Regions from separate parts of the Homo sapiens genome. Here region 1 is linked to region 2. Evidence: fine-mapped QTL for protein levels in blood plasma. A gene starts in region 2. The other region holds a variant in brackets. All regions are shown on one strand. Distances are between the middles of the regions.

The links. A credible set is the group of variants that fine-mapping cannot tell apart. PIP is the posterior inclusion probability: the model's chance that the variant is causal. Protein levels are from antibody-based Olink assays in UK Biobank. Linkage for the fine-mapping came from a reference panel and not from the study's own genotypes, which makes the PIPs less certain.
Region 1: its variant is the best candidate, but not a certain one, in a credible set for the plasma level of the CXCL6 protein (UK Biobank, PIP 0.60).

What each region holds. Positions count from the first base shown.
Region 1 is chr4:73,870,721-73,876,197 of GRCh38, reverse strand. It overlaps CXCL1 (C-X-C motif chemokine ligand 1), which reads right to left. Exons shown (of 4, transcript NM_001511.4): 4 at 4,890-5,477. Among named protein-coding and RNA genes, the nearest start is that of CXCL1, 4.1 kb to the right of the region's middle. The variant A/G (reference allele first, on the strand shown) is at 4,444.
Region 2 is chr4:73,834,114-73,839,113 of GRCh38, reverse strand. CXCL6 (C-X-C motif chemokine ligand 6) reads right to left here and starts at 2,436. Exons shown (of 4, transcript NM_002993.4): 1 at 2,255-2,436; 2 at 2,018-2,150; 3 at 1,828-1,911; 4 at 354-1,491. The coding sequence starts at 2,363. The coding sequence ends at 1,473. RefSeq lists a silencer at 2,168-2,462.

The DNA.
Region 1 (5,477 bases), 37 kb before region 2:
AGGCCAACAAGGTAAGAAGCCTAGGAGTTTCTACCCCTGCTCTGTTAAAATGCAGCTGCCACCATATGAGGATAGCCAAGCTCATGAGGCCCAGGCAATGACTAGTGCAAAAAACCAGACATGTGAGTGAGGCAGCTGCACTCGGTCACCAAGTGTCACCTGGTGACTCCAGGAGACACCATCAGAAGAACTACCTGAGCCAAGCCCAGGTTGTTGTATTGCCTAGCCCAAATTGATGGTCATGTGTCAAAATAAAATGGTGACTGTTTAAACCCACTGCATTTTCGGGAGACAATAGATGATTAATAGAGTAATTTAGCCAGTAAATTGGCTGAACTCATTTTATACTTTGAATTATTTGGCTACAATATGCACAATGTTTTCTTTAAACTTTCTTAAAGTGGCACATGGCGTGAATGGCTATTAGCTATTAATTAGTACTCTGAGAATGGTTCTACAAATTTTAGAAAGCCAATCCTGTAGCCAAAATTTAGGATAACTGTCTTCTTGAGCAGTCATGAAAATAATCTAGTTTAATAAAAATCACTGTGTATTAGTCATCAGAAAACCAAACTCTGACCCACTTTTGTAATAAAATAATTCCATGGCATTTGGTAACTCCTTGGTGGTTTCTGAGCCTTTGTAGTTCCATCTATAAAATGAGAAGGCTGATTTTCTTTTTCTTGTGATCTCTCAAGTTTTGAACCAAACTCCTGTCTGGCTGTCAAGGGATCAGTCCCTAGTCTCAACATTTTATTTATTTATTTCTCACCATATGATCTGGCTTCTTTTTTAGGAGATTCTTGAAAGCAACAGTAGCATTTCTAACTACTTTTCACTTAAAAAAAGAAAGATTTATTACTTTTAATGTGGAGAACAAAAATGTCAGTTGGAGTCCTCACCTTTTCAAAGGTGAAAATGAGGTCCTGACTATGGTTTAGTAGACTCTTTCTCCCTGCTTTAGTACCTTGTGGATCCAGATTCCACATTTTTATTTTAAGCATAGCCAAGGAATAGAAATCAGAGGCTGATGCCCTGCTGTTAGGAAGATTTATGACTCTGCTATAAACACAACAACTACAATTTCTTGGTTTGAGCAGGTTTCATAGTTTCTGCAGATGAGGAAAGCAAACACTCACAACAGCCCCTTTGTGAGGTCAAGAACTCAGTTGTGTGCAGCAATGGCCAGTGTGGTTCTGCTCTCTTCTATCATGAGCTTTCACTTGTTTCTGCCTCACTTCCCATTTTTCTTCCTCTTGGTTTTCTGGCATTATACTCCTCAATAAAATAGTAGTCATAAGCCTCTGCTATGAGGTCTAATTTCTGGGGGGCCCAACTGTCTAAGTTTGGGCTCCCCCAAAACAGAGTCTGATAAAAGACTTATGCGCAGTAGTTTATCTTACAGGTGATCATGGAAAGAACAAGTGAAGGAGTGGGGGAATGTGGGATAGGGAAGAGAGAAAATCTAATAAAGTGTATGTAATGAATGAGCTATCATTTGTGCAACCAGGGCTTCATCTTGCCATGGAGTCTCAAGGAAACCTTGTAAAATGTTCCTCAGAATTGTCCCAATAAGACTTCAATTTCCAGTCACGTTGAAGTAAAACAGAAGTCATAACTTCCTGTCTTAAGCAACTAGAAAATGCAACACAATATATGAAGCAATTGTTATCAGACATTGGACAACAAGCAGCAAAAGGCTAGAATTCCTCAGAAAAGGAAATAAACAAGGTGAGGTGTATGGTGATCTTGGTTTTTTTCTGGAGCAACTCTGGACCACCGTGCAAGGGGAGAGATCCAAAGTAGACCATGGTAGTCTTACTGAGTTGAGGGGGCACAGGTTTGAATTCAAGGGAGCTGGGGTGGCTAGAAGTTTAGGAAAAAAGAGTTGTAGAAAGGGGAGATCTATGCAAGAAACCAGAACTCCATAAATCTGCACTGAGGTCCCACTGGGTCTCTTTGATCAGTACTAAGTCACACACGCACGGTGGGGGAAACTCCATAAGTCAAGCAAAGAGTAACTAGAGATTTGTAAGCTGAGAAAACCTCAGACCTAGCATGGAATGAGGAGATAGTTAAGGTCTACCCTGTCGTAGTAGAGAGAACCTGTGAGCACTCAGGGCATTCACTAACGGCACAAGAAGGACATGACTTAGTAGTACAGCTAAACAAACCCTAGAGTGAAGAACATTCCTAGACCACCCTAACAAAGCTCAACAACAAGCCCCAAAGAGACAAAGCTGATGCCCTAGAACTTACCTGCTTGTCAAAATGGAGCCCAAGACTCTAAAGAAAGAGAACAAATCTTGACACTCAGCAACATAAGATTCAAAATTTCCTGCAGTCAAATGAAAATGATTATACATGCTAAGAAGTAGAACAGCATGAGTTATATAAGAGAAAAAAAATCAAGTAAATATAGATTCAGAAGTGACAGAATGATAGACTTAGCATACCAAGATTTTAAAATAACTATCTTAATTATGCTCAGGTGTGTAAAGAAGGTGTAAACATAATGAAGAGGGAAGTGGAACATTTCATCTATTCATATGTCTTTTTAATATTTATTTATTTTAATACACTATCTATAAAATTTAAACACACACATATATATGGAGAGAGAGATAGGAAATTCTAGAATTATCTAACAAGAGACTGGGAAAATTGAATATTCATCCTTTAACTCCTATCTCTCCTCTCAGGGCATCAAATCACAGGCCATCCTAGCTGTGGGCTGAGAAATCTCTCTCTGCCAAGCCCCCTTTCCCACACCTCAATGGAGGAAGCCCCCAGGAAGAGATGCAGAAGAACAAGTGCCTTAAGTTGGGAAGCTGTTATACATTGCAGCTGTTGTACTCATTGTGAGGGGAGTGGGACATCATTGGTGAAGACAGGCAGGTCCTTTTTTAAATTATGTGATTGGGTAGCCAGAAAAGACAAACTGTGTGATCTGTTTTTCTGGATTTCCCTCACTGTGCTATTGTGGGTCTGCCACCTCCACCATCCCTTAACGTCTCTCCAGTTACTTCTGGAACACCTGAGAGGGTGTCTCAGGAGGACTCACAATGATAGAATAGCGTTAGCCACGTCTCCTTCTTTCCTTCTCTAGACCCCATGGTAACATTGCTCAAGAAACCTCAGTCACTGTGATCATTGCTGTTTCCTGCTGATGGCTTCTCAAAACTGTGATGTGTTATGTAATATCCTTTTCCTACTTCCTTCACCCTGTGACTACCACGCCAAAAACGCTGTATCCTACTTCCTGCTATAACACTCCCAACAGGAGACTGCCTTGTACTTGCAAGTTTTCAGAGCAATTTGGTGTGAAAACACAATTTACATATCTGCTTGATCTAAGACTGAGACTGAGACCATGTCCATGGAGTTGGCCTGAGGACCAATGGCAAGAACCAGGTTTCCAGAGCCTCCATAACATTTAATTCTTACAACACTTCAGAAGGCTAATTTTATTATCCTCATCCTATAGAAAGGAAAATGAGGTTGAGTGAAGTAAAGAAACTTGCCCAAGATCACAGTGACAGAGCTGGAATTTACACCAAAGTCAATCTGATCCTTTGAAATCTGTCTTTAACCACCATGTGAATAAAAGCATCTCTTTTGTCCTTTTTATGTTCCCTGTTCCATATTAGCCAGAGCTAGGTAGCCAGTACAGCAAGCTCCAATGTTTGAGGGTAAGGACTTGTCTTAGGTGTAAGGAGTGGTTTTATTGAACCCTTGGATGCTACTTGTAAACATTTTCCAGTGTCCTCTAACTTGGGGTTAGGGAGTGAATGCTACCATTTATGGAGTTTCTCAAATGGTTTGCATTTATTTGCTTATGTATAGTTTACAAATATTCTTCTTCCTCATCTCATTCATAATTAACTAATAATGTTGGAATTATGAAGAGATTCTTGTTTTTAACTTTTTTAGTTGTGAGAAAAGCTCACAGAGTTTGTTTCTTGTTGCTTATGACCTCTATTTGCCCAGCTTCTTGGGATGATCCAGAATTTGATTTGAAGTATTGAGGCTGCCAGTCTCACCTTCTTGCCTCTGTTAGAGGCAGTTACCCAGGGCTCAGGATTTCTGAATGAGTTCTGAATCAGAAACAAGCACACACCTCATGCATGCACGAACATCCTTCCTTTTCAGGTTTGGAGTGTGGTTTCTTTTATATTATTGGGGTATTTCTTCCTTAGACATGCCAATTTTGCTTCTGTCCTAAAAACCTGTAGTGCTGCTGCTGTTCTGGGACAGCATTGAATACAGAGTTCCCCAGAAGGCAACCGCTCTATGAGGTCCCATCAAAATTCCACTAGGAACGATGCAAATGAATGCAGTCCAATCTTAAAACCATTATAGTTGGTATATTGCTATAAAGGATTGAAACACCGCAAATCTTAGTGCTAATTACTTATATGTGAAGGCTAGAAAGCTGAGCCC[A/G]AATTTCAATCAGATCTTTTCACAGGTGAAGCATTCAGCCACTCACTTTTGCTTCTATTGACGACACAAATGATTTGAGTTTTGAAAAACGAAATATTTTAGCCACCATTTCACTGCCAGCTTCATTAAATTGTCAACAATTATGAGAAATATTGTTCAACAAAAGCAATGAAATGAGAGCCCTTGTTAAGATAATATAAATATTTTTAAGGAGGTAAATTTGAGTAGCAAGACAGAAAGAAACTTCTTATAAAAAGGGCAATTTATATCAGTGACTCTCCCATTAGGGGCCAGCCCATAGTTTAGTAAAGCGCATTCTTCACTAGGTGAGAGCCAAGGGTATTGGCAGCAATCACCGCATGAAATGAAGCATAACTCATAGTTTGATTTATCTGTATAGCAAATTGAACACCCAGAAAAATAAACACAATTAAAAAATTGAGAAATATTGATATAAATCACCAGATTTTCCAGTAAAGGTAGCCCTTGTTTCCCCCCAAAAATCAAACGAGTTTTTTCTATAAGTGCTTTATTTTTATATTCTCTATGAAAACATCAATAATTAAGCCCCTTTGTTCTAAGCCAGAAACACTGTAAAACTACCATTAAACAAGGCAGTATGCCTTACAAGAAAGACATAAAATGTCCAAGGGATATTTAGAACATTTTAGTTCTTAAAGTTTCAACATGAGAAATGTTGACCACACACTGTGAAATCATTTCAATAAATAACAACTGACATTCATCTAAACAGTTACAAAACAGATGTGCACATACATTCCCCTGCCTTCACAATGATCTCATTGGCCATTTGCTTGGATCCGCCAGCCTCTATCACAGTGGCTGGCATGTTGCAGGCTCCTCAGAAATATTAACATAATGACTGGAGAACATTTGAAAACATTCTACCTTCAAATTAAATATGAATCCAGATTGAACTAACTTGGGGTTGACATTTCAAAAAGAATGAATATAATAGGACAGTGTGCAGGTAGAGTTAATCATACCCTTAATTATTTTACACCTAAAATATT
Region 2 (5,000 bases):
AGTGAATGTGAGGCACAAGGGAAGTTGAAGTACTGATGATCAGGAGTGAGATGAGACAGAACCTCATTCATCATGTTTAGCAACTTTTATTTCATGTCTAGGAAACAGGGAGCCATTTAAGAATTTAGATAGGAAAATCTTATCCTATTTGTGTTTTCTAAAGACCCCAGAGGCTATTGGTGCTGTGAAGGAGTAACTGGAAGGGGGCTGAACATGGAGAAAAGTTGAACCAATGCAATGGTATTGGGGAATGAGGGCCCTCTCTGCCAGCCAGAGAAGAGCAGAGGTAATATTTTGAATAATGTAGAATTAAAGATAAATAGTAACTGTATAAGAAGGAGAAACAACATCAGTGGTTTAGAAATCTTTTATTGTTTCTCCAAATGACAATACAAGTACCAAAAACCAACATGACACACAGGAAAAAATAAAAGTGCAATTTTAATATAGTGAATGTGATACATGTATAATTCCTCATAACAAAATGGTCAAAACCTTTAAAAGATCCACAATAGATATCTGAAAATCTTAGCAATGCTATATATATTTTGAGGACTAAATGATGAATTTATATTCAAATTGTTCAAATATATTTTCAAAACTTTCAGAGCACAGATCATTGTTAATTTTGCTTTTATTTAAAAAACCAAGAGAATACATTTCTATGTAAATTAGCAATCAGGAATTTATCTGTTTTTGGGCTTCTTCATCTATCTAAAGTGTATATTTAGTGACCAGAATTATAGTCATCCTATAGTGAAAAAATAGCATACAAAATCAAAGTTTAATGAGTAAATCATGACATTATGCCATACTAAGAAGACATCAAACGTCTAAAACCATAGGAAGAGAATATATTAGCCCTTACAGAACTTAAATTTTTAGAAATTCTGAATAAGGAAATATATTCTGCACAGATAACGGTATGACACACCCAGTGTTCTAATACAGTACAACTTAAATAGCATCCTAGGGTAAAGAGTAACATATTCCCCAAGAAACAGAACTAAAATATTTCCTATTTTATGAGAAGAGTGAGTAAGAACAACAGGATACCTCCCTCAACAGCACACTAATAAAACATTATTTCCATACGAAATCCACAGCCTTTTCGGTAAGACTTTAAGGAATGTATGATAGAAATACAATAGTTATCTTCAATTCAATATTCATTGAAAGACTAATAACCAGTGATTCTTTGCTCACAATATGGTCAATTGCCAAAGGGTTCAATAACTTATCAGGTAAAATAACAGTAAATAGTGGAAATACTATATTAGTACTTCATTAGCTGAGCTGTAAACTTCAGGGAGAAGCGTAGGCTTTCCCCCACACTCTTCAAAGTAGGGAATCCATGTAGAAAATGGAAAAAAACCAACCCTTCCTTCTTATTCTTACTGGGTCCAGGGATCTCCAGAAAACTGCTCCGCTGAAGACTGGGCAATTTTATGATGCATGGTCTTTTTTGTTACTCAGTTTTTCTTGTTTCCACTGTTGAGAAAAGAGTTATATTAGTATAACCAATTCCCACACTCTTGTATGCTACATTTGGTTTTCAAAAGCGTTTGGTGGGGGAAAAAAATCAATAAAAGCAAAGAGCAGACAAAAAATAGATGTCAGTAATGAGCTCTGTGTAATTGTTCAGGCATGTAAGATTGGTGATAAAGGTTTACCCAGAACATTCCAGAAAAAAAGTTTCCTTATTCTTCTTAACAACCTTATAATTCTAAGCATAGTCTAAATCCTACAGAGAGAATAAGGACATTGTGAAGTATATGCTTTCCATAGAAGATATTAAAACACCACAAAGATCAAAGGGACAAATACCTGTCCAAAATTTTCTGGATGACTTTCTTTAGAAAAGGGGCTTCCGGGTCCAGACAAACTTGCTTCCCGTTCTTCAGGGAGGCTCTGAAGTAAAGAAAAAGAGGATGCACCCATGAGCCACAAAGGTTGACGACCCAGGCTGGAGGACTTGCCTAAGTCACAGTGGACACAGCAACACAGGAGAACTTACACCACTTCCACCTTGGAGCACTGCGGGCCTGCGGGGAACACCTGCAGTTTACCAATCGTTTTGGGGTTTACTCTCAGCGTAACGCGTAAACAAGTGCAACGCAGCTCTGTCAGCACAGCAGAGACAGGACCAGCTGGGGAAGAAAGACATTTTTATAGGGCAGGTTGCTGGGAGAGTTCCCTGGAACGCAGCGGCCCCGCAGAGGCTGGGATGCACCCCAGTGCCAGGAGCTCTCACCGCTGGCGAGGGGCCCCGGCGGCGTCAGCAGGAGCAGCAGCGCGAGCAGCGCGCACAAGGAGCCCGAAGGACCCGGGACACGGGCCGCGCGGCTGGACGGGAGGCTCATAGTGGTCAAGAGAGGGTTCGCGGGTTCCTGAGCTGGGTGGAGGCGCGGAGACTGGAGGATACAGAGCACTTTGGTTTCCTCGTGCCTTCTGCACTCCCTTTATCTGCATTCATCCCTCCCGACTGGCAGGAAACTCAAGCTTTGGGATGCTGGGGAAATTCCCTGAACTCAGGGGGCAGTGTGGAAAGAAGGGGTTGGTGGAGGGGGGCGGGAGGATGGGAATTGGTGGGGTGGGTGGCTGGGAGGAGCTGCCTGCTCCCTTAAGGGGGAGGACATTTTAGCCCCGCCCCGCGGTGGAGGGAGCTGTGGCTCCAGCCAAAATAGAGCAGCGATTCAGCAGGGTCTCATCCCCTGGGCTTGAGGGGTTAGCGAGGCTGGCTTCTCTGAGGCACGCAGCTGTCTGGGAGATGCTCCTCCTCTCCAATGGCCAGGACAATTAGGCAGGAGAAGGAAATAAAGGGTATTCAATTAGGAAAAGAGGAAGTCAAATTGTCCCTATTTGCAAATTACATAATTGTATATCTAGAAAACCCCATGGTCTCAGCCCAAAATCTCCTTAAGCTGATAAGCAACTTCAGCAAAGTCTCAGGATACAAAATCAATGCACAAAAATCACAAGCATTCTTATACACCAATAACAAACAAACAGAGACATGGTCTCAGCCCAAAATCTCCTTAAGCTGATAAGCAACTTCAGCAAAGTCTCAGGATACAAAATCAATGCACAAAAATCACAAGCATTCTTATACACCAATAACAAACAAACAGAGAGCCAAATCATGAGTGAACTCCCATTCACAATTGCTTCAAAGAGAATAAAATACCTAGGAATCCAACTTACAAGGGACATGAAGGACCTCTTCAAGGAGAACTACAAACCACTGCTCAATGAAATAAAAGAGGATACAAACAAATGGAAGAATATTCCATGCTCATGGGTAGGAAAAATCAATATCGTGAATATGGCCATACTGCCCAAGGTAACTTATAGATTCAATACCATCCCCATCAAGCTACCAATGACTTTCTTCACAGAATTGGAAAAAACTACTTGAAAGTTCATATGGAACCAAAAAAGAGCCCGCATGGCCAAGTCAATCCTAAGCCAAAAGAACCAAGCTGGAGGCATCACGCTACCTGACTTCAAACTATACTACAAGGCTACAGTAACCAAAACAGCATGGTACTGGTACCAAAACAGAGATATAGATCAATGGAACAGAACAGAGCCCTCAGAAATAATGCCGCATATCTACAACTATCTGATCTTTGACAAACCTGAGAAAAACAAGCAATAGGGAAAGGATTCCCTATTTAATAAATGGTGCTGGGAAAACTGGCTAGCCATATGTAGAAAGCTGAAACTGGATCCCTTCCTTACACCTTATACAAAAATTAATTCAAGATGGATTAAAGACTTAAACGTTAGACCTGAAACCATAAAAACCCTAGAAGAAAACCTAGGCATTACCCATTCAGGACATAGGCATGGGCAAGGTCTTCATGTATAAAACACCAAAAGCAATGGCAACAAAAGCCAAAATTGACAAATGGGATCTAATTAAACTCAAGAGCTTCTGCACAGCAAAAGAAACTACCATCAGAGTGAACAGGCAACCTACAAAATGGGAGAAAATTTTCGCGACCTACTCATCTGACAAAGGGCTAATATCCAGAACCTACAATGAACTCAAACAAATTTACAACAAAAAAACAAACAACCCCATCAAAAAGTGGATGAAGGACATGAACAGACACTTCTCAAGACATTTATGCAGCCAAAAAACACATGAAACAATGCTCACCATCACTGGCCATCAGAGAAATGCAAATCAAAACCACAATGAGATACCATCTCACACCAGTTAGAATGGCAATCATTAAAAAGTCAGGAAACAACAGGTGCTGGAGAGGATGTGGAGAAATGGGAACACTTTTACACTGTTGGTGGGACTGTAAACTAGTTCAACCAGTGTGGAAGTCAGTGTGGCGATTCCTCAGGGATCTAGAACTACAAATACCATTTGACCCAGCCGTCCCATTACTGGGTATATACCCAAAGGACTATAAATCATGCTGCTATAAAGACACATGCACACGAATGTTTATTGCAGCACTATTCACAATAGCAAAGACTTGGAACCAACCCAAATGTCCAACAATGATAGACTGGATTAAGAAAATGTGGCACATATACACCATGGAATACTATGCAGCCATAAAAAAGGATGAGTTCATGTCCTTTGTAGGGACGTGGATGAAATTGGAAATCATCATTCTCAGTAAACTATCGCAAGGACAAAAAACCAAACACCGCATGTTCTCACTCATAGGTGGGAATTGAACAAGGAGAACACATGGACACAGGAAGGGGAACATCACACTCTGGGGACTGTTGTGGGCTGGGGGGAGGGGGGAGGGATAGCATTAGGAGATGTACCTAATGCTAAATGACGAGTTAATGGGTGCAGCACACCAGCATGGCACATGTATAGATATGTAACTAACCTGCACATTGTGCACATGTACCCTAAAACTTAAAGTATAATAATAATAAAATTAAAAAAAAGAGAGAAAAGTTGGAACCATAGTAGTGGAAGCTTTGACTTGAGAAAAATTTCTGAAAGTCAATCCTTT